Linked DNA regions of Homo sapiens. The protein of the gene in region 1 interacts with the protein of each later gene in a pairwise test. Each region holds a gene or a part of one and is shown in the gene's direction. Other genes may lie near its edges.

Evidence for each region.
Region 2: the proteins of YTHDF1 (region 1) and DHX30 interact in a two-hybrid assay, tested with the Homo sapiens proteins (2 studies listed by BioGRID, with this or other methods).
Region 3: the proteins of YTHDF1 (region 1) and PRRC2B interact in a two-hybrid assay, tested with the Homo sapiens proteins (2 studies listed by BioGRID, with this or other methods).
Region 4: the proteins of YTHDF1 (region 1) and PRR32 interact in binary tests that used the Homo sapiens proteins (3 or more experiments, as listed by UniProt).

What each region holds. Positions count from the first base shown.
Region 1 is NC_000020.11:63,193,839-63,199,496, reverse strand, and holds the end of YTHDF1 (YTH domain-containing family protein 1), read left to right. Parts: intron 1-2,762; coding exon 2,763-2,789; 3' UTR 2,790-4,068; downstream 4,069-5,658.
Region 2 is NC_000003.12:47,805,433-47,813,887, forward strand, and holds part of DHX30 (ATP-dependent RNA helicase DHX30), read left to right. Parts: intron 1-5,224; 5' UTR 5,225-5,251; coding exon 5,252-5,279; intron 5,280-8,455.
Region 3 is NC_000009.12:131,473,015-131,481,469, forward strand, and holds part of PRRC2B (protein PRRC2B), read left to right. Parts: intron 1-493; coding exon 494-710; intron 711-1,439; coding exon 1,440-3,521; intron 3,522-4,729; coding exon 4,730-4,935; intron 4,936-5,459; coding exon 5,460-5,605; intron 5,606-6,237; coding exon 6,238-6,379; intron 6,380-8,455.
Region 4 is NC_000023.11:126,814,502-126,823,080, forward strand, and holds PRR32 (proline-rich protein 32), read left to right. Parts: upstream 1-5,227; 5' UTR 5,228-5,342; coding exon 5,343-5,362; intron 5,363-6,157; coding exon 6,158-7,034; 3' UTR 7,035-7,285; downstream 7,286-8,579.

The sequences.
Region 1 (5,658 bases):
CCCAGTCTGGAGTGTAGTGGTGTGATCTCGGCTCACTGCAAGCTCTGCCTCCTGGGTTCACACAATTCTCCTGCCTCAGCCTCCCGGGTAGCTGGGACTACAGGCCCTTGCCACCACGCCCAGCGAATTTTTTGTGCTTTTAGTAGAGATGGGGTTTCACCGTGTTAGCCAGGATGGTCTCGATCTCCTGACCTCGTGATCCGCCCGCTTTGGCCTCCCAAAGTGCTGGGATTACAGGCGTGAGCCACTGCGCCCGGCCGAGTCAGTGCAGTTTTAAGAACAAAGTAGTGTGCCGAGGAGAGGGTTGTGCGCCTGTGCTGGTAGAGCCCCCGGGCGGTTTTCTCAAGGTTCTCTCAGGACTTCGAAGAACAGACCCACCTTTTCTTTATCATTTAGAGTTTGGCCCCATTGCTGTAAAGGTCATAAACAAGTTGAGTGTTGAGAAAGTGAAGTAGAGTTAGCATTTTGCAAGATTGCTGTCCAGCTATAAATTTAGAAACATACTGATTTCTTAGGATGGCAGTAGCTTTTATGGCAGCAGAGTCAGACCAAGTCCTGGGTTGATACATTTTTTGGTTTTAAAAAAACCTAGAAACGGCCACTTCTTAGCTTAAAACAGTGAAAGTGGTGAGCGTCCCACACTGTGAGCATTGCTTAGTTCCTCAGACTGACTGTCCTTGCCCTGGCGGCAGGTGCCCCTGACCTGACCCCACTTCGACCTCCAGGCCGGCTCAGCAGAGTGGCTCTTTGACTTTGGAAATTAAGAAAGAGCATAGAGAATCTTAGGCCATAAGCATTTCCTGGATGCTTGTTGAGCATTCCTCAAAAGAACGAGCTGTGCTTCGTCATTTTTTTTTTTTTTGAGAAATTTTATGAGGAATAGTATTTTTTAAAGAGCACATAGTAAACTTTGTAGCTGTTTATAAGGGCTGAAGGGAGATGGGGATCTGGGGAGTTTACCTGTGAGTGGCTTTAACATCAGCTATTTGAACTCAAGAGATTGGTATTTGCTTTTTAGGAACAGCAGTACCTCTTTTGTTAAGAGATTGATTGATTGAGAGTTTCGCTGTCTCCCCCAGGCTGGAGTGAAGTGGCACAATCTCAGCTCACTGCAACCTCTGCGTCCTAGGTTCAAGTAATTCTTGTGCCTCAGCCTTCAGAGTGGCTGGGATTACAGGCGCCGGTCACCATGCCCTGCCAAATTTTTTTTTTTTTTTTGTATTTTTAGTAGAGGTGGGGTTTTACCATGTTGACCAAGCTGGTCTCAAATTCCTGAGCTCAGGCAATCCACCCACCTTGGCCTCCCAAAGTGCTAGGATTACAGGCATGAGCCACCACACCCAGCCTGGGAAGAGATTTTTTTTAACGGAGAATGTTTAAGAGAATGTAAAATACAGAGTTCTTAATTTTTCCAGTTTTACATTTGAGGGTAGGGAGGAAATGTTAATTCTTAAGAGTAGGACCTGCCTATCCAGGTCCTTAATCCAAATACTCTGGAGCCTTCTCGGGACAGGGAACACCACATCTGCTTCTGAGAGCAGCCACAGTTGAGGAGGCTGGTGTTTATTCCAGTGCCCAGCAAAGTTTATTATTAACCGGAAGACACATTCAGTCCATTTTTAGCAAAAGAGGAGGTTTCAGGTTAAATGTTTGGGTGTCCTGCCCGCTGGTTTTCTTTATTAGTTTGCATCTTGATAGATGGCCAGATGAGGGTGGATGTGCCTGGGATGCATCTTTTTGTTTTGTTTTTATTTCGAGATAGGGTCTCTCTCTGTTGCCCAGGCTGGAGTGCAGGGCAGATAATAGCTCACTGCAGCCGAAAACTCATGGGCTCAAGCGATCCTCTCGCCTCAGCCTCCCGAATAGCTGGGATTACAGGGTGCGCCACCACACTCGGCCTGGGACACCTCTCTAGCAGAGTGGTGCAGCGTGTGCTCCTTAGATCGCACATTTTCATCTTTGTATGCTGCCTTGTAAGGAGACTGAAGGGGCTTCTAGACCCTGCTACTCAGGGAGGCCAGTGTGGGAAAAGATTCGGGTGTAAGTCTCAAGCTTGTGTGTCACATACACTCTGGAAAAGATGATTCTCTTACGGGAGTGGGCAGCAAACCTGGTCAGAGGAGCTTTGCCTTGAGCCAGTCTAGCCGTGGGGGAGTGGGGAGGGGCATGCTCTTCCCCTTGGCGTGGGAGTGAGCTGGGGAGTGGGAAGGGCCTGAACTGGACAGGCCCACACCGGTCCTCCTGCCCTTCATTAGCCACATGACACAGCACCTTGTTAGCCAGTTGGAAGGATTTTGGTGTCCTTTGTGCCACTGAGAAGTTTAAATGAGATAAAATACAGAAGAACAGCTTCTGTCTCCCTGGCCTCCTTGAGAGCCTGGTGCGTGCCAGCTCCTCCCTCTGAGTGCAGAGAATTTCACATTGCTAAGTGTCTTTCCATGTGGAATGATAGTGGCACATGAGGGAAAGACAGCTGTGGGAAGTGAGGCTTCCCAGCAGACAGGTGGCCCATGTGACCGTTGTGGTTGATGCTTTTCTCCTGGTAGAGGGGGTGGGGAGAATGCCATGCCCAGTGTGGCCAGTCCCCCACAGAGCAGGCCCCAGTGCAGCTCAGAGTTGTGTGCTGGTGTGGCTTGGGTACCATTCAGGGTCCCGCCTCCAGATTTGCAGGTGCTGCTAAGGGGCAGCCTCGGATCTCACTTTTGGGAGGGATTCATTGGTGTGGTTACTCTGCGTTCAACTTTTGTTTTTTCTTTTTACAGGAACGGCAGAGTCGAAACAAACAATGAGGGCGAACCAGTTTCTTACATGTTCTAACGTTTGACTTTGAAAACAGTTTAAAACACGTGTGCTTGGTCAGCTCCAGTGTGTCGTCCCGTGCGGGGGTTGAGTGTTGCATCTTTGCCTTTCTTGTCGTTGATTTTTGCCCAGATGGATCTGCATTTATTTGTACTTTTTCTATGTATTATAATCCTGTAGAAGTCACTAATAAAGGAGTATTTTTTTTGTCAGCTTATCAATCAGACTGATCTAATGTGAAATGTAAGTATCCTTAAAAACAAAGCATCTATTTTGGCAGAAATTGTGTTCTTAAATTCAGTCATTTGATATTCTGTGAGACTTCATATTTCTCATCCCTTTATTGCTTTTTAGCAAACATAAGAAACCATGAGTCATTTTGTCATTTAGAGTATTCTGATAAAATCTCTTGAAAATACTGAAATCAAAAGGTTAATGATTTTTTGTTCATTCTGATTTGTCATTTTATTATCTGTTATCGGTCTAAAGTGCTAATTTACCCATTTGATTTTTCTGCTAGACAGATAACTTTTAATTTTTCAAATTTGGCAGACACTTTTTTTTTTTTTTTGAAAATCTTTCCTTCCAGATCTGTTGCCCACTGAACAGCCACCCGTCCCTCACTGTCCTGGTGTCCGATTGGGCTGGATGGTGTTGGGGCATGATGTGTGGAGGAACTGGAAGGTGCTTTAGGTCTGGTTCAGGGTCGGGCATTCTTTGTTGTTTGCACATCTTTTTAAATTTTACACCTTTTCTTAAGAATTCTAATGCCGTCTTAAGTTTTTATACCAATAATGCTGAGCTTTAAGTGTAGGATCTGGTAGTACAGACAGTGTGATGGATGATGCTGCTGGTTGTAAATTTCATCGTGTGTGTCTAATTTTTTTTCCTGTTGAATGGGTAAAAACAAAACAAAACTTTTTTTAGAAGATGAATTTGCTGTCATGTTTTGTGGAATGAGGGACCGTTGAGCTCACTACCACCTGGAGTTTGAGTTGAAGCATGAAAATGGTGCCCATGCCTGACGCTCCAGCGCCTGGATCTGCACGTGCCCTTGTAGAGGATCCTTACCGTCCTAGAGAGCAGACGCTTTCTGAAAACTACTTGCTCCAAAAGACCCTCTGAGTTAACGTTTCAGCTGTATCATTAGACTTGTATTTAGAGCGTGTCACTTCCTCTGAACTGTTACTGCCTGAATGGAGTCCTGGACGACATTGGGTTTTTCCTCTAGGAGAATACAAGCCTTAATAAACAATACTATTTAGCAAACTTGGTGTCACCTCATTCTTCACCCTACTTGATGAGTTTATGTGTTGGAGCTTTTTAAGCTGCAGAGCCATTCGGGGAGTCACCGTAGAAAGCCCTGTGTTTCTCAAGGTGTGGGATTCTCGTTCCCTCGCTTTGGAAGAGGGAGCTGTTAATTTCCTTAAGACTATAAACTACATGGCACCGTCACCCACCCCTCATCACATGAATGTGCAGACGCAGCGGTGCGTGCAGCACCTGGGCACCGCTACCCCCTTTCTGGACTTGGCTCCTCACCGTCTCTCTCCATTCATCCTCCAATGCCTCTTATTATTTATGCAATAAGAGTTTAATACCTGTTTAGTTTGTTTTCCTTTTGAGGTAAAATTTATAAGCAGTGAAATGCACATTGTGTACATCTGCAGAAGTTGACAAGTATGTGATAAAGTTATGCAATATTAGCCTCAGCCCAGAAAATCCTGAGCTCAGGCAATCCGCCCGCCTTGGCCTCCCAAAGTACTAGGATTACAGGCACGAGCCACCACACCCAGTCTGTGAAGAGATTTTTTTAACAGAATTTTTAAGAGAATGCAATGCAAAATACAGAGTTCTTAATTTTTCCAGTTTTACATTTGAGGGGTAGGGAGGAAATGTTAATTCTTAAGAGTAGGATCTGCATATCCAGGTCCTTAATCCAAATACTCTGGAGCCTTCTCGGGACAGGGAACACCACATCTGCTTTTGAGAGCAGCCACGGTTGAGGAGGCTGGTGGTTATTCCAGTGCCCAGCAAAGTTTATTATTAACCGGAAGACACATTCAGTCCATTTTTAACAAAAGAGGAGGTTTCAGGTTAAATGGGTGTCCCGCCCGCTGGTTTTATTAGTTTGCATCTTGATAGATAAGGGGGCCAGATGAGGATGGCATCTTTCCCAGGCAGTCACCACCTCTGCCAGAAGTTAGTAGTTGGTTTAAGGAAACACAAAATGAGAACGGGAAAACGTGTCTGTTCTGACAGGCCAGTTAGAGGTAGGCTGTGTGCTCCCACCTGCAGCTCCAAATGCTGCTGTCATTTTAGGGAAGTGTGTTTTCAACCTCGAGTGGCTAATTCCTTCATTTTATGCCATTTTCTTGCTTGTATTCAAGTCCTGGCCTCCTTTAAAGATGAGTTCCCGGCTTTCAGAATGCTGAGCCGAGAGGTGCTGAAAGGTGGCAAGCATGACGACAGGTGCCATGCTTTATCTTTGTTGTTTCGTTGTTGTGGAAGAAGTGGATGCTGTTGTCCCCACAGAGTGGGAGGTGGTGGCAGGGACTCTGGCAAGTGGTAGTTGCTGACTGGCTTGTGAATGGATAGTGGATTGGGCGGTCTAGACAACACCTCCCCTGAGGCCTCCAAACCGGAGGAGGCAGTGGCTTCTCCTTCTGCCAACTTGGAAAGTTTTGTAGAACTGACACCGTGTCTGGGTGTTTGGGGCCTCCTGCCTGCATTCGTGGTGCATGGTAATGCCAGGCAAGGAGCCAGGCCTACCAGGGGAAGGGAGAACCGAAAGGCATAGGTTTGTGGAGTGAGAATTGGGGGGGCGGGGGAGGGATTTCATCTCATTTTGCTTTATAA
Region 2 (8,455 bases), on another chromosome or scaffold:
AGCCGTGCACAGAGCAGTGGTGGATCTGATGCTCAGCTGTACTGTAAAACAAGAGGTATGTGTTAAACCTATTTCTGACCATTTTGGAAGAAGGATATCATTTATTTTATTTTGTTTTATTTTTGAGACAGAGTCTCGCTTTGTCCCCCAGGCTGGAGTGCAGTGGCGCGATCTTGGCTTGCTGCAACCTCTGCCTCCCAGGTTCAAGCAATTCTCCTGTCTCAGCCTCCCAAGTAGCTGAGATTACAGGCGCCTGCCACCATGCCCAGCTGATTGTTTTGTATTTTTAGTAGAGACTGGGTTTCACCATGTTGGCCAGGCTGGTCTCAAACCCCTGACGTCAGGTGATCAGCCTGCCTCAGCCTCCCAAAGTGCTGGGATTACAGGCATGAGCCACTGTGCCCAGCCAGAAGGGTATCATTTTTAGTCATTGTGGAGTCTCTGTCCTGGAACCATCCCCAAGTGACTCTACCTGGAGTTAAATTGTATTTCATTATGCAGGAAATCTTGATATAATAGCATTTTACTTATCTGTAAATTACTTAAGAGACACATTGAGCTACAAGGTTTTTTGTTTTTGAGACAGTCTTGCCCTGTCGCCCAGGCTGGAGTGCAGTGGTGCAATCTTGGCTCACTGCAACCTCCACCTCCTTAGTTCAAGCAATTCCCCTGCCTCAGCCTCATGCCACCAAGCCCGGCTAATTTTTTTGTATTTTTTTTTTTTTTTTTAGATGGGAGTCTCACTCTGTTGCCCAGGTTGGAGTGCAGTGGTGGGATCTTGGCTCACTGCAACCTCTGCCTCCTGGGTTCAAGCGATTCTCCTGCCTCAGCCTCCTGAGTAGCTGGGATTACAGGTGCGCACCACCACGCCTGGCTTATTTTTGTATTTTTAGTAGAGATGGGGTTTCACCATTTTGGTCAGGCTAACCTCAAACTCCTGACCTTGTGATCTGCCTGCCTCTGCCTCCGAAAGTGCTGGGATTACAGGTGTGAGCCACCGTGCCTGGCCAATTTTTTTCTTTTTTTTTTCTGAGATGGAGTCTCACTCTGTCACCCAGGCTGGAGTACAGTGGTGCAATCTTGGCTCACTGCAACCTCCGCCTCCCGGGTTCAAGCGATTCTTCTGTCTCAGCCTCCTGAGTAGCTGGGACTACAGGCGTGCACCACCACGCCTGGCTAATTTTTTGTATTTTTAGTGAAGATGGGGTTTTACCATGTTGGCCGTGCTGGTCTCGAACTCCTGACTTTGTGATCCACCTGCTTCGGCCTCCCAAAGTGCTGGGATTACAGGAGTGAGCCACTGCGCTCAGGCGTGCCTGGCCAATTTTTTTTGTATTTTTAGTAGAGACAGGATTTCACCATCTTGGCCAGAATGGGCTCGAACTCCTGACCTCAGGCAATCTGCCTGCCTCAGCCTCCCAAAGTGATGGGATTACAGGCGTGAGCCACCAAGCCTGGCCCACTACAAAGATTTTTAAACATTACTGCATTATGGCCGGTCGTGGTGGCTGATGCCTGTAATCCCAGCACTTTGGGAGGCTGAGGCGGGCGGATCACAAGGTCAGGAGTTCGAGTCCAGCCTGGCCAACATGGTGAAACACTGTCTCTACCAAAAATACAAAAATTAGCCAGGCGTGGTGGCGGGTGCCTGTAATCCCAGCTACTAGGGAGACTGAGACAGGAGAATCATTTGAATCCGGGAGGTGGAGGTTGTAGTGAGCAGAGATCATGCCATTGCACTCCAGCCTGGGCAACAAGAGCAACACTCTGTCTCAAAACAAAACACCATTACTGACTGCATTACAAGGAAGACCGCTTTCTTTTGGATCTCTATGAAATGTTCTAGAGCTCTGTAAATTCTGTCTCTAAAAGATCCTGTCTTGATTCTCATAGTATCGTTTTTTTAGATTAGTACAGGAAAAAGAATGGTACATGAGCCTAAATTGACATATTGGGCTAGAGGTTTAGGGACTTTTAAAAAGCAAAACTGGCCGGGCACGGTGGCTCATGCCTGTAATCCCAGCACTTTGGGAGGCCGAGGCAGGCAGATCATGAGGCCAAGAGATCGAGACCATCCTGGCCAACATGATGAAAGCCCATCTCTACTAAAAATCCAAAAAAATTTAGCCGTGCATGGTGGCGTGTGCCTGTAGTCCCAGCTACTTGGAAGGCTGAGACAGGAGAATAGCTTGAACCCGGGAGGTGGAGGTTGCAGTAAGCTGATATTACGCCATTGCCCTCCAACCTGGTGACAGAGCGAGACTCTGTCTCAAAAAAAAAAAAAAAAAAAAAAAAGCAAAATCAAGAGTCTATTTGCAAGCAAATTAACTTACAAATTTTTTTTTTAGAGGCAGGGTCTCACTGTGTTGCCTAGGCTGGTCTTGAACTCCTGGCCTCAAGCGATCCTTCACCTGGGCGTCCCAAAGTGCTGGGACTACAGGCATGAGCCACCCCACCTAGCCATTAAATTTTGCTTTTTTTTTTTAAATTTTTTTGAGACAGAGTTTCGCTCTTGTTGCCCAGCCTGCAGTGCAGTGGCGCAATCTCATCTCACTGGAACGTCCACCTCCTGGGTTCAAGTGATTCTCCTGCCTCAGCCTCCCACGTAGTTGGGATTACAGGCATGCACCACCACGTCCGGCTAATTTTGTATTTTTAGTAGAGACGGGGTTTCTGCATGTTGGTCAGGCTGGTCTCAAACTCCCGACCTCAGGTGATCTGCTTGCCTCGGCCTCCCAAAATGCTGGGATTACAGGCATGAGCCACTGCACCCGCCTTACTTTTTGTTTTTTTTTTTTAAGAGAGACAGGGTCTTGCTTTGTCACCCAGACTGGAGTGCAGTGGCGTGATCACAGCTCACTGTAAACCTCAAAATCCTGGGCGAAGTGATCCTCCTGCCTCAGCCTCCTGAGTAGCTAAGACTGCAAGCATGTACCACCACACCTGGCTAATTCTGAAAATTTTTTTTAGAGATGCGGTCTCACTATGTTGCCCAGGCTGGTCTTGAACTCCTGGTCTCAAGTGCTCCTCTCATCTCAGCCTCCCAAAGCGCTGGGATTACAGGTGTGAACCACTGTGCCTAGCCAGTTTACCATTTCGTAGCAATAGAGTATTGTTTCTTTTTTTTTTTTCTTAAATTTATTTTTTATTTTTATTTTTTTGAGATGGAGTCTCGCTCTGTTGCCCAGGCTGGAGTGCAGAGGTGTGATCTTGGCTCACTGCAACCTCCGCTTCTCGGGTTCAAGCGATTCTCCTGCCTCAGTCCCCTGAGTAGCTGGGATTACAGGCATGCGCCACCACAGCTGGCTAATTTTTGTATTTTTACTGGGGGCGAGGTTTCCTCATGTTGGCCAGGCTGGTCTCGAACTTCTGACCTCAGGGTGATCCGCCCACCTCAGCCTCCCAAAGTGCTGGGATTACAGGCATGAGCCACTGCAACCAGCCGAGTTTTGTTTTTTGTTTTTGTTTTTTTTGAGACAGAGTCTCACTCTTGTTGCCCAGGCTGGAGTGCAATGGTGCGATCTCGGCTCACTGCAACCTCTGCTTCCCGGATTCAAGCGATTCTCCTGCCCCAGCCTCCCGAGTAGCTGAGATTACAGGCGCCTGCCACCGTGCCTGGCTAATTTTTTGTATTTTTTTAGTAGAGACGGGGTCATGTTGGTCAGGGAGTATTGTTTTTTAAGTAATATTCACTTAAAATGTTTTAGATTTTATAATATTCTGGTTTTCTTTTAAATTAGAATGTCAAATTACACACTTTTTATTTTCATTTGGATAGAAGGTGTCTATGGAATGTAACTTCTTTTTTTTTTTTTTTTTTTTTTTTTGAGACGGAGTCTCACTCTGTCGCCCAGGCTGGAGTGCAGTGGCACAATCTTGGCTCACTGCAAGCTCTGCCTCCTGGGTTCACGCCATTCTCCTGCCTCAGCCTCCTGAGTAGCTGGGACTACAGGCCCGCACAACCATGCCTGGCTCATTTTTTTGTATTTTTTTAGTAGAGACGGGGTTTCACCGTGTTAGCAAGGATGGTCTCGATCTCCTGACCTCGTGATCCGCCCACCTCGGCCTCCCAAAGTGCTGGGATTACAGGCGTGAGCCACCGCGCCTGGCCGGAATGTAACTTCTTAAAGTAAATGTTATCATTGTTGATATTGTATTGAAGTTTTCTCTGTGATATACCATATCCTATGGGCTGAAATTTCCAGCATCCCTTGGGGAGTGGAGGCCATCAGGGCAGACCTGCTATGGACCTGAAAGATTCCGCCCCAGGTCAGCCCTCCACTCCCCACCTCCCCACAATTTGAGAATGAGAGGGAACAGGAGTCAGGAGCCGGAGTGTTGGCCCCAGTAGACTCCAATCAATGTTGGACATGATTCTGATTGGCTAAACACTGTGTAGATGTTTTTAAACAAAGTCCATTTAAGGTTACTGCACTAATCAAGGAGTACTGGATTATAAAAACATCTATAAATCTGAGTTTGAGTATTTTTTAAAACAAAATTGTTAAACCAGATGTGTTGCTTTTTTTTCTTGTCATCTCTAAGTATAGTCCTCAGTTAAATATACTAATAAGCAAAATGCACCAAAACTTTTGGCTAATAGTTGTGCTTTAACTTAATATTTGTTATTTCATAGAGACTGCTATGAAAAGCTTTTTATTCTGAATCACTGTACAGTTATTCTTTGATCCTGTCAGTCAAATCTCATTTTTAGGGTCTTGACTAGGTTTTATGAAAGCCCAGTAAGGCAGTTTGCCCATAAGGCAGTCATCAGTCCTGTTTCCTGATGCCACATGACAGAAGGGGTCCATGTAGAATTTCGTTTCTTCCTGGAAGTCCCAAGGAAACCTGCAAGTATTATGATAACTAGGAAGGAAACCTGCAAGTATTATGATGAACTGGGAAGGAAACCTGTAAGTATTATGATGAACTAGATAGAACTACATGTCTCTCATGATGAAATGCATCTCCCTCTGTTTAACAGGATATGGGGAGTTTTAGGACAGGGAAGAAAGTGCTCAATTAGAAAGAAGCAAAGACAATTACTCTAGAGTGGAGCTGGCCTTCCAGTCCTCAAGACTGGGGAGCAGCAGTTGGGGCTCATTAGTGAAGAGTTTCATTTTTTTCATTTTCTGAACAGTGCTCTCCATGTTACTGAAGTCTTCTTTGTGGGTTGCTGGACCAGGAATATTAACCATTGCCTCTTGGCCCTCCTTGTTCTCAGGATTCCAGCTTTCCCTCCTGGCCAGAAATGTTCAGCCTGGACTCATTCAGAAAAGGTAAGACTGCAACTGTGCTTGTGACCTCATGCCCTTCCTTATTGGGATGGGCAGCTCTGAGGGCTGTGAAAGTCTCTCCCCAGTATGTAGTTCTTGCACATTTCTTTGGGTGGTTTTCCAAAGGCCTTTCCTATAGCCTTCCTTTTGCATGGTGCTTAGAATCTGTGCCAACCCTTGCCATGGCCTTTGCCATGCTTCCTCCCAGTGCCCCCTTCTGCGTACTCCCTGCTTATTAAAATCCTTTTTTTTTTTTCTGAGATGGAGCCTCACTTCTGTCGCCCAGGCTGGAGTGCAGTGGCACGATCTCGGCTCAGTGCAATCTCCTCCTCCTGGGTTGAAGCAATTCTCCTGCCTCAGCCTCCGTAGTAGCTGGGATTACAGGAACCAGCTGCCAAGCTCGGCTAATTCTTTTTTTTTTTTTTAGTTGAGACGGGGTTTCACCATGTTGGCCAGGCTGGTCTCAAACTGTTGACCTCAAGTGATCCACCCACCTCGGCCTCCCAAAGTGCTGGGATTACAGGTGTGAGCCACCGTGGCTGGCCTCTAAAATCCTATTTTTCTAGGCTAGTATTTTATACCATCTCCTTCATGAACCTTTCCTAATTCTGTTGACCAAATGCAATCTTTCTCCAATCTTCCTCGGTACCATACCTGTTCGTTCTCATGGTTAGTCTATTCTGAATTAATCATTTTGTCACTAGATTGGAAGCTCCCTGTAGCCAGGGCCTGTTGTGTGCTTTTACGATGCATAGCACCTGGCCAGCATTTCGCACATAGTAGGCCTCAGTAAACACTGGTGGAAGTTGGATTGAGTCTGTATTAGGCTGTTCTTGCATTGGTATAAAAAAATACCTGAGACTGGGTAATTTATAAGAAAAGAGGTTTAATTGGCTCACATTTCTGCAGGGTGTATAGGAAACATGGTGCTGGCATCTGTTTGGCTTCTGGGGAGGACTCAGGGAGCTTTCACTCAGGGGCAGAAGGTGAAGCGGGAGCAGGCGTGTCACGTGGCAAAAATCAGGATCCAGAGAGAGAGAGTTGGGGAGGTGCCACACAATTTAAACAAGATTGGCTGGGCATGATGGCTCACGCCTGTAATCCCAGCACTTTGGGAGGCCAAGGTGGACGGATTGCCTGAGCTCAGGAGTTCCAGACCAGCCTGGACAACACAGTGAAACCCCATCTCTACTAAAATACAAAAAATTATCCAGGCGTGGCAGTCTGCGCCTATAGTCCCAGCTACTTGGGAGGCTGAGGCAGGAGAATAGCTTTAACCCGGGAGGCAGAGGTTGCAGTGAGCCGAGATTACACCACTGCACTCCAGCCTGGGCAACAGAGCAAGACTCAGTCTCAAAAAAAAAAAAAAAAAAGGCCATGTGTGGTGGTGGGCACCTGTAATCCCAGCTACTTGGGAGGCTGAGGCAGGAGAATCGCTTGAACCTGGGAGACGGGTTGCAGTGAGCTGAGATCGTGCCATTGCACTCCAGCCTGGGCAACAAGAGTGAGATGCCATCTCAAAAATAAATAAATAAATAAATAAAATAAACAACAGGATCTCATGAGAGGCTGGGCGCAGTGGCTCACACCTGTAATCCCAGCACTTTGGGAGGCCAAAGTGGGCGGATCACTTGAGGTCAGGCATTTGAGACCAGCCTGGCCAACATGATGAGACCCGTCTCTACTAAAAATACAGAAAATTAGCTAGGCGTGGTGGTGTGCACCTGTATTCCCAGCTACTTGGGAGGCTAAGGCACGAGAATTGCTTGAACCCAGGAGGTGCAGGTTGTAGTGAGTCAAGATTGTGCCACTGCACTCCAGCCTGGGCGACAGGGCAAGAATCCATCTCAAAAAAAAAAAAAAGATTTCATGAGAATTTACTCACTATCACAAGGATAGTAGCAAGCCATGAGGGATCCATTCTGTGACCCTTCAACAGCAGAGATTACATTTCCTTTTTTTTTTTTTTTGAGACGGAGTCTCACTCTGTTGTTGCCCAGGCTGGAGTGCAGTGGCACGAGCTTGGCTCACTGCAACCTCTGCCTCCCGGGTTCAAGCAATTCTCCTGCCTCAGCCTCCCGAGTAGCTGGGACTACAGGCGTGTGCCACCACACCCGGGTAATTCTTGTATTTTTAGTAGAGATGGGATTTCGCCATATTGGCCAGGCTGGTCTGTAACTCCTGAGCTCAAGTGATTTCGCCCATCTCGGCCTCCCAAAGTGTTGGGATTACAGGCGTGAGCCACCAGCAGGAGATTACATTTCAACATGAGATTTGGGTAGGGACAAATATCCACACTATATCAAAGTCATTCTTTCGTTAGTGATCATAGAAACTCTGGCAAGTCTTGCCGGGCGCGGTGGCTCACGCCTGTAATCCCAGCACTTTGGGAGGCCGAGGCAGGCGGATCACGAGGTCAGGAGATTGAGACCATCCTGGCCAATATGGTGAAACCCCGTCTCTACTAAAAATACAAAATAAAAAATTAGCCGGGTGCGGTGGTGGGTGCCTATAGTCCCAGCTACTCGGGAGGCTGAGGCAGGAGAATGGTGTGAACCCAGGGGGCGGAGCTTGCAGTGAGCCGAGATCGCGCCACTGTCTGGCCTGGGCGAAACAGCGAGACTCCATCTCAAAAAACAAAAAGAAATTCTGGCAAGTCTTGAAATTAGTGCTCTACAGCACACTGAGTGAGGGGGTTGCATAGGCAATGGCAGAATTGAGCCTTGACAGGGCTATAGGGTAGAGTTCACAATGTGTTTATAGGAGGTAAAGTAGCCTGTGGGGACTTTAGGGGCCAGATCCTGAGAGCTTTGTATTTCTTAGAACATGACTTTTTTTCTTCAAGAGACTGAAGAGTAAAGGGCCTGTAGCCCGTGTTGAAGCTGATTCTGAGGCTTCTGTCTGAGGATATTTTACAAATAAATAAGAACCATAACAGAACGTCTATAACTGCTGATTAAATAGGTCTTCCTGATTGTGTCTTCTCTCTCTCTAAGTTGTGTTCCTCGAGGCCTGGGAAACCCCTGGCCAAGTGGTGCCCTGTGTAACCCATTGAATGGGGCCAGAAGGAGGGCTGGACGTACTAGGGCTCAGAGAGCAGCATGTCCCTGCCTCCTTGTGTATCTCCAGCCACTCCATCTGTTTTCATATTGTTTGAAAAAATTTATTTCTGTCATCCT
Region 3 (8,455 bases), on another chromosome or scaffold:
TCCATGAAAGTAAGCATGTGAGTCTGAATTCCTGGGAGGGGGACAATTGTTTCCCTGCCCTGGTCCAGGCCAGACAGACCCGCCAGTCTGTTCCTGGTAGTAAAGCGCATGTGTCTATCTAATGTGCCTTTTGAGGATGTGGCCCTTTTGGGTCTTTGTTTTAAACAATGTCTCAGTTGTATCTCCCTGCCCTGTATAGAAAGGCTTCATCCCCTGTCCTGAGTGTTAAGGACCAAGCCTATATCTGACAAATGTGCTTTTCTTGCCCCCTTCCTTGGACAGGTCTTTGAACCAGGCAGGGTGCATGTGTGTGTGCCTTCAGAGGTCCTCAGGTCAGGAAAGATTAAGAGCCCTATGATGTGTAGGTGGGTGGGGTGCTGTATCCACATGAAAGTCAGGGTAACTGTTAACTTCTTTGGGCCTTTGGTTGACCCTGAGATTGGAGCAGGGCTTTCTAAATGAGATGATGTAGATCAGTCTTTGCCTTCTTCAGGACTGATGAAGCCCATGATGCCCCAGGAGTCCCTCAATGGGACAGGCTGTCGCTCTGAGGATCAGAACTGTGTGCCCCCACTCCAAGAAAGAAAAGTGACCCCCATCGACTCACCCCCTGTGTGGAGCCCAGAGGGCTACATGGCACTGCAGAGCAAGGGCTACCCGCTCCCGCACCCGAAGTCGAGTGACACCTTGGCTATGGACATGCGTGTCAGGTGAGATGAAGCCTGGTCCTGCTGCCTTGCCACTGAAGGAGGACTCCAGGTCCTAATTGAGAGGGCCCTGGGATGAGCTACCATCCTAGGAGACACTGCCCACGGGAGACGTGCTCCTTGAAGGGACTCCTGGTTCCTCTGGGGAAGGAGAGTGTGAGGAGGATTGCTTGAATGCTTTGTCCAAGAGGCTCTTTTCAGATGGTGAGACGTAAGGTGAAGGAGAAGTCCCGGGGTCCTCAAATCCTGGGCACAGGGCAGGCGGGTGGGGGCTTCACAAGGCAGGTGGGGTCCAGAGCATGGGTCTTGGCTCATTTCTGTGGAAGTAAACAGAGTTAGCCCTGCCACCCCCATAGCCCCAGACTCTTCACGGCCTCCCAGGCTCCAGCTTGCTCTTGCTCTTTGACCCGGAGGATTGCCTGGCTCCTCTGTCTCCAGGGGGCACACCGTACCCAGCCTGCGGCCACGACAGTCTTCACTCTCAAGGACTCCAGGGGCCACCGACCAATTCATGGCCTGGCATTTCTGAGACGTGTTTAAAGATAGAACAAATGTTGATGCTTATGTTTTTTTTTGGTTGTTGTTTTTTGTTTTGTTTTTCTAGCTTTCTTTTTAAAAAGTGTTTTAGTTTTTGTTTTTGTTTTTTCTTTTTAAAACTAAGCTCTGTGTTCAGCATGGAAACCAGGAACCAGGCTCCAATCGCATTGACTGATTTTTCTGGTTCCTTTTCAGGAATGAAAGCTCTTTCTCTGCCTCACTCGGAAGGGCAGGGGGCGTAAGTGCTCAGCGCGATCTCTTTGAGGAGAGAGGGGAGGAGTACTTGAGTGCTTTTGACAAGAAGGCCCAAGCAGACTTTGACAGCTGTATCTCTTCTCAAAGAATAGGCCAGGAGCTTTTGTTTCCACCCCAAGAAAATGTTCAGGATGCAGGTGCTCCTGGGGGTCACACCCAAAACCTCAGGTGTTCCCCATTGGAGCCTGACTTTGTCCCAGATGAGAAAAAGCCAGAGTGTGGCAGTTGGGATGTTAGCCACCAGCCAGAGACCGCTGACACAGCCCATGGTGTTGAGCGGGAGACACCCCGGGAGGGGACGGCCTTTAACATCTCCTCCTGGGACAAGAACGGGAGCCCCAACAAACAGCCATCCTCGGAGCCTGAATGGACTCCCGAGCCCCGGAGCTCCAGCAGCCAGCACCCGGAGCAGACGGGCAGGACCCGGAGGTCGGGACCCATCAAGAAACCAGTCCTGAAAGCCCTCAAGGTGGAAGACAAGGAGAAGGAGCTTGAGAAGATTAAGCAGGAGCTAGGGGAGGAGAGTACCCGGCTGGCCAAGGAGAAGGAGCAGAGCCCCACGGCAGAAAAGGATGAGGACGAAGAGAACGATGCCTCTCTGGCCAACTCCTCCACCACCACTTTGGAGGACAAAGGCCCTGGCCATGCCACTTTTGGCCGCGAGGCCACCAAATTTGAAGAGGAGGAGAAACCTGACAAGGCCTGGGAAGCCAGACCCCCACGAGAGTCCAGCGATGTTCCCCCCATGAAGAGAAATAACTGGATCTTTATTGATGAGGAGCAAGCCTTTGGGGTCAGAGGACAGGCCCGGGGCCGGGGCCGTGGTTTCAGAGAGTTCACTTTTCGTGGTCGGCCTGCTGGCGGAAATGGGAGCGGCCTCTGTGGTGGGGGGGTCCTGGGGGCCCGCAGCATCTACTGCAGCAGTCAGCGCAGCGGCCGTGGCCGGGGCCTGCGAGAGTTTGCGCGGCCAGAGGACTGCCCCAGAGCCAAGCCCCGACGGAGAGTTGCCAGTGAGACCCATAGCGAGGGCTCAGAGTATGAAGAACTTCCCAAGCGCCGCCGGCAGAGGGGCTCCGAGAACGGGAATGAAGGCTCGCTCCTGGAGAGGGAGGAGAGCACCTTGAAGAAGGGCGACTGCAGAGATTCTTGGCGGTCCAACAAGGGGTGCTCTGAGGACCACAGCGGTCTAGATGCCAAGAGCCGAGGCCCTCGGGCCTTTGGGCGAGCCCTCCCTCCCCGGCTGAGCAATTGCGGGTATGGACGGAGAACCTTCGTCTCCAAAGAGTCACCCCACTGGCAGAGCAAAAGTCCAGGCAGCTCTTGGCAGGAATATGGCCCTTCCGACACATGCGGATCCCGGCGACCTACAGACAGAGACTATGTCCCAGATTCCTACAGACACCCTGACGCATTTGGTGGCCGGGGCTTTGAGGACAGCCGCGCGGAGGACAAGAGATCCTTCTTCCAAGATGAACACGTGGCAGATTCTGAAAATGCAGAGAACCGGCCCTTCAGGAGAAGGCGCCCCCCACGCCAAGATAAGCCCCCTCGATTCCGGCGCCTCCGGCAAGAGCGGGAGTCCCTGGGCCTGTGGGGACCCGAGGAGGAGCCCCACCTGCTGGCAGGTCAGTGGCCAGGCAGGCCCAAACTGTGTTCTGGGGACAAGAGTGGCACTGTGGGCCGCAGGTCCCCTGAGCTCTCCTACCAGAACTCCTCCGATCACGCCAATGAGGAGTGGGAGACGGCCTCCGAAAGCAGCGACTTCAGCGAGCGGCGGGAGCGGCGGGAAGGCCCTGGGTCCGAGCCCGACTCCCAGGTGGATGGTGGCCTGTCGGGGGCTAGTTTGGGTGAGAAGAAGGAGCTGGCCAAGAGGAGCTTCTCCAGTCAGAGACCCGTGGTTGACAGACAGAGCCGAAAGCTGGAGCCGGGAGGGTTTGGGGAGAAGCCCGTTAGGCCAGGTGGTGGTGACACCTCCCCTCGCTATGAGAGCCAACAGAATGGGACGCCTTTGAAAGTGAAAAGGTAAAACCAGACACCATCTGGGCCCTTTTTGTTGTTGTGTTCTGTTCTCAGCAGCACTGAGTTCACGCATGCATGCCGATGCCGCCGTGTGTCGGGGCTGGGGGCCTGCCCCCAGGCCGTCTGTGCGCGTCTCCATTGCCTGCCCCCACATTGCCTGTCTGCTTCTCGTGGTGGTGTTATTGTGGCTAGAGCTCCCACCCCCACCCCCACCCCAGTGGTGCTCTTGAGGCCACTGTCCAGCACCTGACCTGAGAGTCCAGTCATGTGTCCCTGGAGCCCCGCCGAGGGGCCGCTGCAGCGAGGAACGTTGCCTGTGCACAGTGCCAGGTGCCGGTCAGTCCACCAGAGTCCTCTGCTCCGGAGTTGCTGCCAGGCGGCGTCCTAGGGGGCATCGCTGGCCTCGTGGCTGCATGGAAGTGGCTCTTCCTAGATGGTTCTGCTTCTCCACTGTGAGGAGACGTGGCCCCACGGTGGGGTTGCCACCTCAGCATGGCAGGAGCCCAGCAAACGCAGAGGGGAGCAGGCTGCACATGGTCTGGCGAGCACCTCTTCCACAGCCAGAGGCATTCGGGTGATGACCTCTGCTCAGGGACCAGGAGAGGGTCCCCTGCACAGTCTGGGTTGACTGACTGCACTTGGCTTGTGCCTCGGACAGGGAGGTGCAGGGGCTGCTGAGGCCTTCCCTGTCCTCAGCATACTGAGGAAGATGGCTTCACACCTCCACTCTCCTTAGAATTCAAGGCAGAGAAACTCCCAGAGAAGGAGCCACAGGGAACACCGACTCTTTCAGGTGGCATCTAATCCAGCTTTCCAGGCGCCAGAGGCTGACCCTTGGCTTCACCTCAGTTTTCTGCCCCAAGGGCCCTCCGGCAGGGCAGTCCTGGAGAGGAGCAGAAATGCTGGCGTCTCCATTCTGAGCATATTCCCCTTGTCTCTCTCCCCCCTACACTCTGAACATAGCATGTGGGAGAGCCCTGGGGAGCCACTTTCCCCAGGAGCAGGCAGAGCCGGTGGGGGCAGCCTTACACGTATGTTTGCACACGGACATGGATGCACTGTGGCCAGCCTGCCGCTCCTCCCCACCCGAGGAGTCAGCTAGAGGAAGTGGGCCTAGATCAGGGTGCCGGGCTTGTGTGCAGGCTGTGTGCACGTGCGGTGTTTTCCCTCCTTCCCCAGCTCTGGTTAACAAGATCCTCTTTCCCTTACAGATCCCCAGACGAGGCCTTGCCTGGAGGTCTTAGTGGCTGCAGCAGTGGGAGTGGCCACTCCCCCTATGCCCTGGAGCGGGCAGCCCATGCCAGTGCTGACCTTCCCGAAGCCTCCAGTAAAAAGGCAGAGAAGGAGGCCAAGTTGGCTGCTCCGAGGGCAGGTGAACAGGGAGAGGCCATGAAACAGTTTGACCTGAACTATGGAAGTAAGTCATCCTCATATCTTCAGGGGAAAGAACTCAGGCAGAACCAGGGGCCATGCAGTCCTCGGGCCTCCCGAGTTTGCCCTTGCACTGAGTACCTTAGCTTTCGGAACAGCTCGGCCAGGCCCTGGGCTGGGTTCTGGGGCTGTAGAGGTGAGCAGAGTAGGTAGGATTCCCACCGAGTGTTGCTCACAGCCCGTTGAATCCCCGTGACACCCTGCAGCTTCCGGGCTTTAAAGAGAGGAAGCCTGGGGCCCAGAGACGTTCGGTGGTGTGTCCGAGGTCACACACAGCTGTAGGAGCAGAGCTGGGGTTTAAGCTCTTTGCGTGTTCTCTCAGTTGTGCCCTTGGGCCTCTTTGGTTTGGGGTAACAATGTGTTAGATCAGAGGCGGCCTGAGAAAAGTGCGGAAGTCCTGTCCAGGTTTCTGTCGAGCCTGATGCTAGATCTCAGGCGCCTGTTGAATTGGGTTGTTCTTGTCTCCTGGTGAGTGGAAAGACTGTTCCTTCTCGTGAAATCTTGGTTCAGGTGCCATCATTGAAAATTGCGGGTCCAGCCCCGGGGAGGAGAGTGAGGTGGGTTCTATGGTGGGCGAAGGCTTCATCGAAGTCCTGACCAAGAAGCAGCGCCGCCTGCTGGAGGAAGAGAGAAGAAAGAAGGAGCAGGCCGTGCAGGTGAGGGGCGGAGGGTGGGGGGGCATGGGGCTGGAGGGCAGGCTGGCAGATGCCCAGGAAACCCAGAGCCAGAGGGTAAGGGAGTTCTCGGTCAAGCTCAAGGTGGCAGAGAGGAAGAAAGGAGTATTTAGCAAGCACACATTGTCTCCCCGTTCCTGCTATTACCAAGGCCCTTCTATCAATGTAGGAATAGGTGGTGGCATCACTGTTATGCAGTGGAAGAAACCGAGTCTTGAAGAGGGTGACTTCTCTAGGGTGATAACAGTGGAAACTTGTCCAAGGCAAGATGCAGACCTCCGTCACCTCCCAGCTTCTCCTTCCTCCCCACTCCTCATTCCTGAGTGGAATGAGATTTGTCTCCCTCAAGTCAAGTGGATCGTGAACGCTATACTAAAATGGAGTCAGGGCTGGACCTGCACACAGATTACAGTCCGTTGGCCTTTCAGGTCTTTCTTGGGGGGTGCTTTGCTTGGCATCGCAGTTCTGCTTGAGGTTTTGGGAGACGAGCGTTCCACACATCTCTGGAGCATTTTCAGGTGGTGTGATTTTTGGTACCTGGGATACTTATCCTGGGGAGAATTTGTCAGTCTTGGTGCCTTTGGCTAGACTACAGCATCCTTTCTTCCCCTCAGGTGCCTGTCAAAGGTCGAGGCCTTTCCTCCCGTATTCCTCCTCGATTTGCAAAAAAGCAGAACAACTTATGTCTGGAGCAAGGTGACGTGACCGTGCCTGGCAGCAGCCTGGGCACTGAGATCTGGGAGAGCAGCAGCCAGGGTGAGAGTTGGGGGTGTGACCCCAGCTGTGGCACCCAAGGTCACATCACACACTGGGTTTGCTTCTGGGGAGGATCCTGCTTTTGAGCTACGAATATAGATGGAATACAGATGGAGTACCTGTTTGCTGTGTTCCGCTGCTGAGCTAGTCGCTGAATGCCGTCTGAGTGATTTGCTGCTGCAACCCCCAAACGGATACACAATTTTCCTTGCCTAAAATTGGTAGAAGAGCAGAGCATTCATTAGTCTGGTGATCTGGAAAAGGATGGCCCCTTGGGCTTAGATCACACAGTAGTGGGAATGGCCTTCTTTGTTGGTCGTCGTTTTCTCCCACTAACTTATGGAAGAGAAGCAAATGACAGATAGACCAGCCGCAAGAGTTCAGGAGCTCTCTTCTGTGCTGTGCACCCTTTTCTTAACATGGGGAAGGCTCTGGAAACCCCTCCCTGAATGCTCTTCTGGAAAGGCAAACTGAGACCAGAAGACGGTATACGTTACTTCTTAGAACATTTGTTGCCCTGAAAACTTTTTTTTTTTAATTCTATATCAAATGTAATTTTTCTGGGAATTTTTCCTTATAAAATAGAAAACTATTTTCATAGAATAGGTTCTTCTTGAGGTTTAGGTGAGGCAGGGCCCTGCGCTGTTAGCCCAGAGCATGCATAGATGAATAAAAACATGGACATTCGATATTTCACAGCTCAGGCCCATGAGGGGAGCTTGGAGAGGTCACCTAGTGCCAGCTCATTTTTCTGCAAAGCAGCTGAAGCTTCTAGAGGGAAGGGACTTGACTCAGGGACTCCAGGGTCATAGGACAAGCACCCGAGACACTGAGTTCTGGGCCTTGATTCTTTCACTGTTTCCACATAGCTTGTCCTCATGTGCTCGGTGAAAACTTTGGTTCTTGCAAACTACAAAATAACATTCAACATGCCCAGCTTTGATGGAAAGGAAGCACAACCATTTGATAAAACATCAATAACACTACATTTGGTAGTGGCTGAGTGACAGGTGTCATAGTATTGGTGTCCAAAAATGCCCAGGTGCCAGATTGGTTGAGCTGCCAGGTGTGAATCAGATGTGACTCTCAGGTGTGAGTCATCATCCCCTTTTGTCAGATCTTTTACTCCAGAATTCTGCAGGGGCTCATTGGTTTCTCAGACCAGGGGTTGTGTCCAAGGGATGGCTTCAGAGAGCCCTTGGATATTAAAATAGCATGTGAAAGGATTTTTTTTTTTTTTAAAGATGGGGTCTCACTATGTTGCCCAGGCTGGACTTGAACCCCTGGGTTCAAGCAATCCTTCTGCCTCAGCCTCCTGAGTAGCTGGGATTGCAGATATGTGCCCCCACCCCCTGCTAGCATGTCAACTTTTGCATGCATATCTATTTTTCTGGGCTCCGGATCCATGGCCATTCAAAAAGTGGTCTGTGAGCTTAAAAATTTTTAGTAATACCCGCTGGGATCTTTCAAAGACTCTGTAGAAGCCACCAACTTTGGCCAGGAGTGGTGGCTCACACCTATAATCCCAGCAGTTTGGGAGGCCAAGGCTTGAAGATCACTTGAGATCAGGAGTTCAAGACCAGCAACAGAGTGAGACCCTGTCTCTATTGTTTAAAAAAAAAAGAAGGCCAGGCCTGGTGGCTCACGTCTGTAATCCCACCACTTTGGGAGGCTGAGGCAGGCAGATCACCAGGTCAGGAGATCGAGACCATCCTGGCTAACATGGTGAAACCCCGTCGCTCCTAAAAATACAACAACAACAAAAAATTAGCCGGGCGTGGTGGCGGGCACCTATAGTCCCAGCTATTCGGGAGGCTGAGGCAGGAGAATGGCGTGAACCCGGGAGGCAGAGCTTGGCAGTGAGTGGAGATCGCGCCACTGCACTCCAGCCTGGGCGACAGAGCAAGACTCCGTCTCCAAAAAAAAAAAAAAAAAAAAAGAAAGATATATTTTTTAATGTAAAAAAAGAGAAGCTACCAACTTTTAGAAATAGTATAAGTGAAAAGAAGCATGAGCATAGCGGAAATAACGACAGAGAATCCAGATTGGCAGGAGTGAGGGCTCTGCCCTGCTCAC
Region 4 (8,579 bases), on another chromosome or scaffold:
GTCAAAGCTCATAACAATTTTGAAAAACAGATTCATTTTTAATAAACTGATAAAAGGTTTCCAACATGAATTTCCAGTGTCTTGTTTATAAGCAAGATGAAATTAATCTAAAATATATTTTGTTTTTCAAACCAAGTACTCAAGAAATTAAGCATGCCCTCAACTCCTGGGCCCAGCAATTAAATCTGACATGGCAAATACATGTATTACACCATTATAAACTTATGGCCTGATGCTTTCTGTAAACTTTAACCTGTTTTCATTAACTGTTCTAATTTTATTAGTCCATGTTTGCATCTTAATTTATATTATATGCCCTATATGAACATAAACATATTGCTTTTATGTTTTAATTTATATATTTATCTAATTCAGAAGGGTATTCTCTAGGGTTATCATTAATACCTCACTTGGATGACTCAAGCTCGGCCCCCATTTCACCACACACACACACACACACACACACACACACACACACACACACTACCATGGAAATAATATGAGGAACCCTATATCTTCTATATGTGCAGCTCAAGAGCTCAACATTAATTAAATCTTAATATTGATAATGCTGGGCTCATATTGCCATTAGCTCCTCAGTAATGGTCACTTGATGCTGTCCTATAACCAATTCCTATTATCTGTCACCCACCCCAATTGCTCCAAGACAGTGTTTTCAGTCATCACCACCTTGCTACATTATTAACTAACACTTCAATCACTTGCTGCATCCCTGCAGAGGCAGACTTTCTGGGATGTGAGCATTATAGCCTGGATGATTTCTTCATTGCAGAACTACCTCTGGATGAGGGTCAATGGGTCCATGCATTACAAAAAACCTAAACTCAGATTTGGTACACACGTTTTTATCTGATCCACTTTTGTGATTGACCTAGAACTATAATTTAGAGGCCACGTGATTAAATGAATGAAATATTGGCTTTGGTGTCAAATTGGCTGTATCTGAATATTGTTTGCCATTTACTAGCTTTGGGACCATGGGAAACTTCTACTTATTTTCTCTGACTCTCTTTTTCCTCATTTATAAAATGAGTATAATAATAATAGCTGCCTTAAAAGTTTGCTGTGACCATTAAATGAGACAATGTATATCAAATGTCTGGTGTACAGTAAGTGGTAAAAAAAAATAGATTTTCTTTTACTTCTTCCTTTTTTTATTCTCATCTCACTTGCCCTGGTGCTACTTAATTTCTGGTTCCGACCCCCATGAGAGCAAGAAAAATGAGTGATATATGTTGAGGAAACTTCTGATAGCTTCTGATTTGTACAAAGAGATAACCTGTTTGGAAGTAATTGCCATGTTACCCATCTTAAAACAAATATGTAAATATTTAAATCTGAAACAAAAAACTCTATAAAAGCAATAATAGTCTATTGAATTTCATACAGCTAGATCCAGCAGTGAGGCACATGTTGTTAGTTGCTTTTGCCAATACTGGTGGTGATATAGCCACACTCTCACCTGTTTGTTCTCATCAATTACCACACAGAGTTTGCAGGACAGCTGGTGGCAGAGAAGACAGGACTACTGCCTATAGCTGTGTAATAGAATAATGCTGCCTGGCCCATTTTGGGAAAGTATCATGCTTTCACGATTCTCATGCTTTAATACATGGAATAAATGACTACAGACTCCTCAAAAACCTGGTATATCTTCCAGAAGCACTTTTTGGACATCATAAACTTAGAGAGTTTTTCACATGCATAGCCAAATTACATTTGGAAAGTGAGCAAATGGGTAGGATTTTCTGATGACTGTCTCCCCAGAGGTCAACATGACAATTTCCTTATAAGCTAGATGGAAACAGAGAAAAATCATCTTTATGTCTTTATATCCTGAATTCTTATTTGAAGCAAAAGAGAAAGGGTGTATTTTAAATGATACTTTGCCTTCATTTACACATCTGCAAAATTTCTTTAAAAAAAACCCCACAGCAACACAATTTTGGTAGATCAACCACACTTTTTTAAAAGTTTCAGATGGGGTTTCATTATATTTCCCAGGCTGGTCTCCAACCACTGGGCTCAATCCATCCTCCTGCCTCAGCCTCCTGAGTAGCTGGGATTACATGTGCATGCCACCATTCCCAGAAATCATATTTATATTAAAGTCATAATTGCTGTGCAAAAGTAAATATATCTTTCTACAGACCTTACTTAGCATTTCAATACTGTCATCAAAATTTTTTGAGAGGTAAATAAATGATATCTGGAACTGTGTCATGAATAAAGAGGCTATGGGTAATGAAAGGCATTTATACCTTAGCTACTTCTTAGGCCCCCTTCAAAACTCATGTTGAAATTTAATTGCCATTGTGACAGATTAAGAGGTGAGACCATTAAGATTAATTAGACCATGAGGTCTCCACTCTCATGAATAGACTAATGTTGATAAGGCAGTAGTGAGTTTGGTATTGCTAGAGTGGGTTGGTATGAAAGTGAGTTTGGCCCTCTCTTCCTTGCTGTCTCTCACTCCCTTGTGCTTCCACCTTTTGTCATGGGATGCCACAGCAAGAAGGCTCTTGCCAGAAGTCAGTTCCTTGATATTGGACTTTCCATCCTCCAAAACTGTGATAAATACATTTCTTTTGTTTATAGATTACCCAGTCTCAAGTATTATGTTATAGCAGCAGAAAATGGACTCAAACAGCTGCCTTGCTAACTAGGCTACTTTTTGGTGAAACTTCAACCTTCATTACCCATGTTTCTCTCCCCAAAACTGTTATTTAAGTGAAGTAAAGAAAAAGGCATATACTTTATTACTGAATTTTCAATGCTCAGTGGATGATTGAGTTACCCTGATAGCTTTTTGCGAAAAGGTAGGTTTTGAGATAGCTGTATTTAACTTTGAAATTTGAATGTATTCAAATATTTATTTATGGGTAAAATTTATGGGTAAAACTTCATGAATTATCTGGTTGATCGCTATCTCTAAGGGGTCTAATTGGTACTTTATATTTCTATTTCTGCCAAATATGAGCCCTAGTTTTGATTTAAAATATGAACTACAAAATGCCATTTTTTTCTTTATTTCTACTTCTATAACTGTTCTTCCCATAGCATGACATCTCCTTTTCTGCCCATGTATATCAATTTTTCAAAACACAGCAGAAGTTTTAATCCCACATAAACTGTGTCACAACTACTTTAACCCACAATTATAGTTCCTTCTTCTGAATTTCCATTGCAGTCTTAGCTTATACCATGCAGCTAATGGTCTGTGGCTATTTTTTATGCCATTCTTCAATAATTTTATAGATGTTATTTTGCCTCCCAAGAAAATTAGAACATTCCCTGAAGTCAATATGGATTGCATATTTAACTTTTTTGGTAAAATCAACACTTAACACAATAGTGAATGCACGCAGTAGACATTCAATAAATATGGACTATTTGCACAAAGGAAAACAAGTTACAAACAAAATATGAGGTAATATCCATAAATTATACACTTCATGGCTTTGGAAAATTCTTGGTGCCATGGTCATTGTCATTGTTCCCAGCAATTTGGTTCCTATATTACACCATACTGTTATGTAATCCAACTAAGATGATATCTTACCAAACAGGTATTTCTAGGTAAAATTGTTTATTATTATAGTAATTTGATAAGAACAAAAGGCATTCCTCAGGCTTTGTTGCTATTATCAGGAAAAAAATATGCAACCTATTATACTGAAACTATTTATCTAAATGTGATTCACCAACTATTAGCAGGCATTAACCCAAGTTGCAATTTCCTCTCTGATACGACAAGAAGTAAAAGAGCTTTAACACCCCACAACAATAATACTGCTAATAATACTATTATTTTTACATAAGGACAAGGTGCGTAATAAACTGAAGCAAGAATAGAAACAGAATCTGGGGAATCAAGAGATTACTTAATAGTGAACCATGCTAGGCAAGTGAACAGATTCTTCTGGAAAATATGTTGGAAACATGCCACTTTCTTGTATAGATGGAGACAACACACTCTGGCAGGAAGATGTGGACTTGCAGACCCCAAAGGTTACTTCTATATGAGTTGTGTTGATTTGCAGTAGTGACCATTCCTTTACATTAGTACTTTGTACTTATGCATTATTCTGTCTCTCTCACACACACACAGATACACAGACACCATATATCTAAAAATTGAAGCACATGGTATTTGAGTCTGTTATCTTTCCTTAAGAGAAAAGAAATATACATTACTGTTGAACTGTAGCAACATATACTAATATTGAAAATAAGGAAGACACAATCTCCCAGGTCTAGCCTGCACAGCACAAATTTTATGTAAATTTAGGCAGGTTTGCCAAGTTTATGGCTTTGTCCTAGAGCAACAGTAATTGTCTTGGATGATGGAATGGTTGTTGTAATTTCGGAGCAATTAATCTGTAGATCAATGGCAGAAAAGAAAGCTGGGAAAGTAAACTTGCTTAAAATGAAATTTAGGCTGGACAAACAGAAAGTTCCCTATGCAAAAATGTTGCATGGCCAAACCTAAGCTAATATTTATAAATTTATGATACCTGTTATGCCATTTATTCTGACCCTCCCAACTTGAGAGAAACTTCCAGAGCTCTATTACAGGAAATACACACACGTACACACACACACACACACACGCGCGTGCACACAGACATAGACAGAGACAGAGAGAGAGAGAGAGAGCTTATAAACTAACAGACAAGATGAAGGATATAACTGCAACGTGAGGGGCTAAAAAATAATGTCACAATGATTCTTAGAGGAGTTCTTGTTTCATCTTCACAGATAGAAAAGCAATTTAGCCCCCAAACCTCTGTTCTCCACCAAGTTAATAATATGCATCCCCAAACTGGAAGTTTAAGTTACAATATTAGGCACAATACTCTGCTCAATGTGTTTCCAAATTTGAGGAGACTTGACAACTACCTTGTAGAAACTAAAACTTCATAAATAACTCTTTAAAAAATATCATGCTTCCATGATTCTTCTAAATCCTTCTTGAAATGATTTGTCTTTCCAACTGCCCTGCATCAGAATTAATGTAGTGAATGCCTTTACCATCCATCTACTACTGTGCAAACACCAGTCCCACATTTAAGTTCAAAGGAGTGTCACAGATTCATCCCCACCCACCCCCCTCCCCACTCCTTTTCTCCCTCCCTTCCTTAGCAACTGGTAACCCCAGAAAGAGAACTCCAAATCTAGAAAGAAGCAGTTGGTCCCTGGCTTCATTCTAGTTGCCAAGCCTCTAAAGCAGAAGCAGGAGTCATTTCTCCAGACCTAGCTGGCCTGTTCAGTGGGTTATCTCCACCACCTCAGGAAAGCTATTCTGATCAAATTTCTTCATGGCTTGTATTGAAAACGTGTAAGTACAAAACCGAGTACAACTGTTTAATTTTGAAGGCAAAGTCAGTTTGAATTGCTTTATTGTGTAACTGGGACAGGGATGAATGGGTTGGAGGAGATGTGGGAGGAAATTACAGACAAAAACTTGAAGGACATAAATTTAGTTACTAAGAATACCGGATTTAAGAGTGGCAACTTTGAAGTGTAATTTTGAAAGAAAATTTACAAATCCCTAGTCTAAACAGTGGGGTTTAAACATGAGGAAATTCTTACTCTAGGGTGTGGTGGTGGTTGAATGAAAGAATTTTTAACAAAATTTGGTGTGAGTGTTGAATGATACCTCAAGAAGAGAAACTTGTGTGTTTGTTAACATAACTAACTTTTCTTTGACTTCTGTGAAGAAAAAGATATTTTACTTCGGAAGACATACCAGAACAATCTTGCCAGAATCTGAATGCCAGGATTAGTGAATCATAGATCCTAGAGAGAATTGAAAAAGCTGGTATTTTCTATTATATGCTTACTATTAAGTTATGTGCATCTTCTAAGCTTCCTTGCTGCCTTGTGGAGGTGGGGAAATGAGGAATGAAATAGGCCACTGAGTAGTCATGAAGGGTAATCATGTAGCCTAGTACTAAAGAAGCCACCTGGGAAGGGGCCAGAGCGCTGAGCAAGTATTTGGCTACATATAGGGGAGAGGGCACTCCTTTTTTCCCTGGTATATTTCAGTGAGCTCAGTCAATTACATATTGTAGCTATTTTCTGGTCAGTGCATTTCCATTTTTATTAGCTGTTTGATTTCTGTTTTTGCAAGCCTTGGAGGGCACGCCCCTTCACCCTTGGTAGTATCTGTGGACAAAAATGGGAACCAGGAGCTGCACCACGACATGCCCCTGCAATGTCTGAGTTCCAAGCCAGAGGATGACGCAGAGCCCTGGGGTCAACCTCAAGTACCGCTGAGACCTTCCGTCAATGTGCTGACTGATCTGGATAGCAAGCAACTGGAGTGGCCCTCTGAAAGAACAGGATCCTGCATTCCTCTTCATAGCTTGAGAGCTCATAGACACCCCTACGGGCCACCACCTGCTGTTGCAGAAGAGTCCCTAGCAACAGCAGAAGTAAACAGCTCTGATGCACTGGCAGGCTGGAGGCAGGAGGGACAGGATGCTATTAATGTGTCCTGGGAAGTCTCTGGCGGCCCTCCTGCACTGATAGTAGGGGGCACAAAGGTCAACAATGGGGGCACTGAGAGAGGCAGTAATAACGCAAGGTTGCATGTAGCTTTGCCACAAGGTAAAGGGTTCTTTCCACCCAGGGGCCCACAAGTGAGAGGCCCTTCACATATTCCCACCCTTAGATCAGGGATAGTAATGGAGGTGCCGCCCGGAAATACACGAATAGCCTGCAGAGGAAAGCTGGCTCATGTTTCTTTCCCACTCAGGGGCCCATGCCACCCCATGCATAATTGGCCAAGGCCTATCCCGTTGTCTTCCAGTACTCCAGGTTTACCTTCTTGCTCTACTGTTCATTGTTTCATCCCTCCTCGACCTCCGATTTTCAATCCCTTTCTCACTATGCCTCTTCCTTTTGCTCCTCCTCCGATATTTGGTCCTCCACTGCCTTCTTATTTTGCCCATTTCCATTCTGGGGGAATGCCAGCTCCTGCATCACCCAACAGAGAGCACAGCTGATGGCAAAAAGGAAGGATGAAAAAAGGGTTGTGGAAAGAGGTGAAAGTTATTCATTTATGCTTTTATATTTGAAACCTTGTACCCTCCCACACTCTGTTTAGCACTAATGTGCCCTACTTGAAACCACGTACCCTCCCACACTCTGTTTAGCACTAATGTGCCCTATTTGAAACCTTGTACCCTACCACACTCTGTTTAGCACAAATGTGCCCTACATACTGGAGATTAAATAAAGATTGTGAAGTCTGAAATGCTGTAAATTATTTTTCAAAATGACACCCCAGGAACCAAAGCCTTGGATTTTGTGTTCTATCTTTAAGGTAATTAAAGCAGAAACAAACCTGTCAGTGTTTTCTAAATGGCTTAGTTAAATGACTGTTACTATTTTCTATTGAGTTGTCTTGCAGTGTGACTGGGGAAGGGTGGTTAGGTTCTTCCTAGGCCAAGGCTAGATTGGGGAATCTCTATCTACCCAAGGCTATAAGGGGTGCTTAGAGCTGGATGGCTGAATTAAGAAAAGTTCCATAAAGGCAGCCTAAAGTTCAGATAATAGAGAAAAATGAACAAACAGTAAAAGAAGCCAGATGAGATTGAGGTGAGAGTAATAGAGCTAACATTTAGCAGTCATAGGCAGAACCAAGTTGAAAAGTCAGGAAAGAAGGAGGAGGGAAGATGGAAGAGTATTCTTAGACCACTGCTTCAACACGAACTGGTGTTTGTGTTTCAACTTTTCCTTGTTGCTAATTACATAGTATATATAGCTCTGGCTCAATAAGAGTCCAAAATCAAGGTGGAACAGGACTGATCCTTTCACCCTTTGTCTCAACAAAGAGCTTACTATATGTATTAGATCCATTCCCACACTGCTAATAAAGACATACTCAAGACTGGGCAATTTATAAAGGAAAGAGGTCTAATTGACTTACAATTCCACATGGCTGGGGAGGCCTCAGGAAAATTACAATTAGGGCAGAAAGGGAAGCAAACACGTACTTCTTTACATGGCAACCAGAGAGAAAAGTGCAGAGTGAAGGTCGGGGAGGCACTTATAAAACTGACAGATCCTGTGAGAACTCACTCATTATCACGAGAACAGCATAAAGATAACTGCCCCCATGATTCAATTACCTCCCCGTGGATCTCTCCCAAGACAGACACAGGGGGATTATGGGAACTGCTGTTCAAGATGAGATTTGGGTGAGAACACAGCCAAACCATATCACTATATGCTCAGAACATTGAAGTGCAAATGAAAATACTTTACTCACATGGAAATGTTTTTCTCAGATACTGCTGTGTTTGTATTCCTCATAATTTGCTACAGCACCCCATTATAATGATGGTTCTGAGAGATTATCAAAATGTTCAGATGGGAGCTTTTAAAATTTCAAGTAACAAAAATAAGGATGCAGCATGCAGTGTGAAAGGATGTACATTTTGACAGCTGTATAACAATTCACTATATAGTAAAATGACCTAAAATATAGTGCCATTGTACATGAACAACCAATCAACTAGAAACGTCTAAAGAGGATGTTTCTTCAA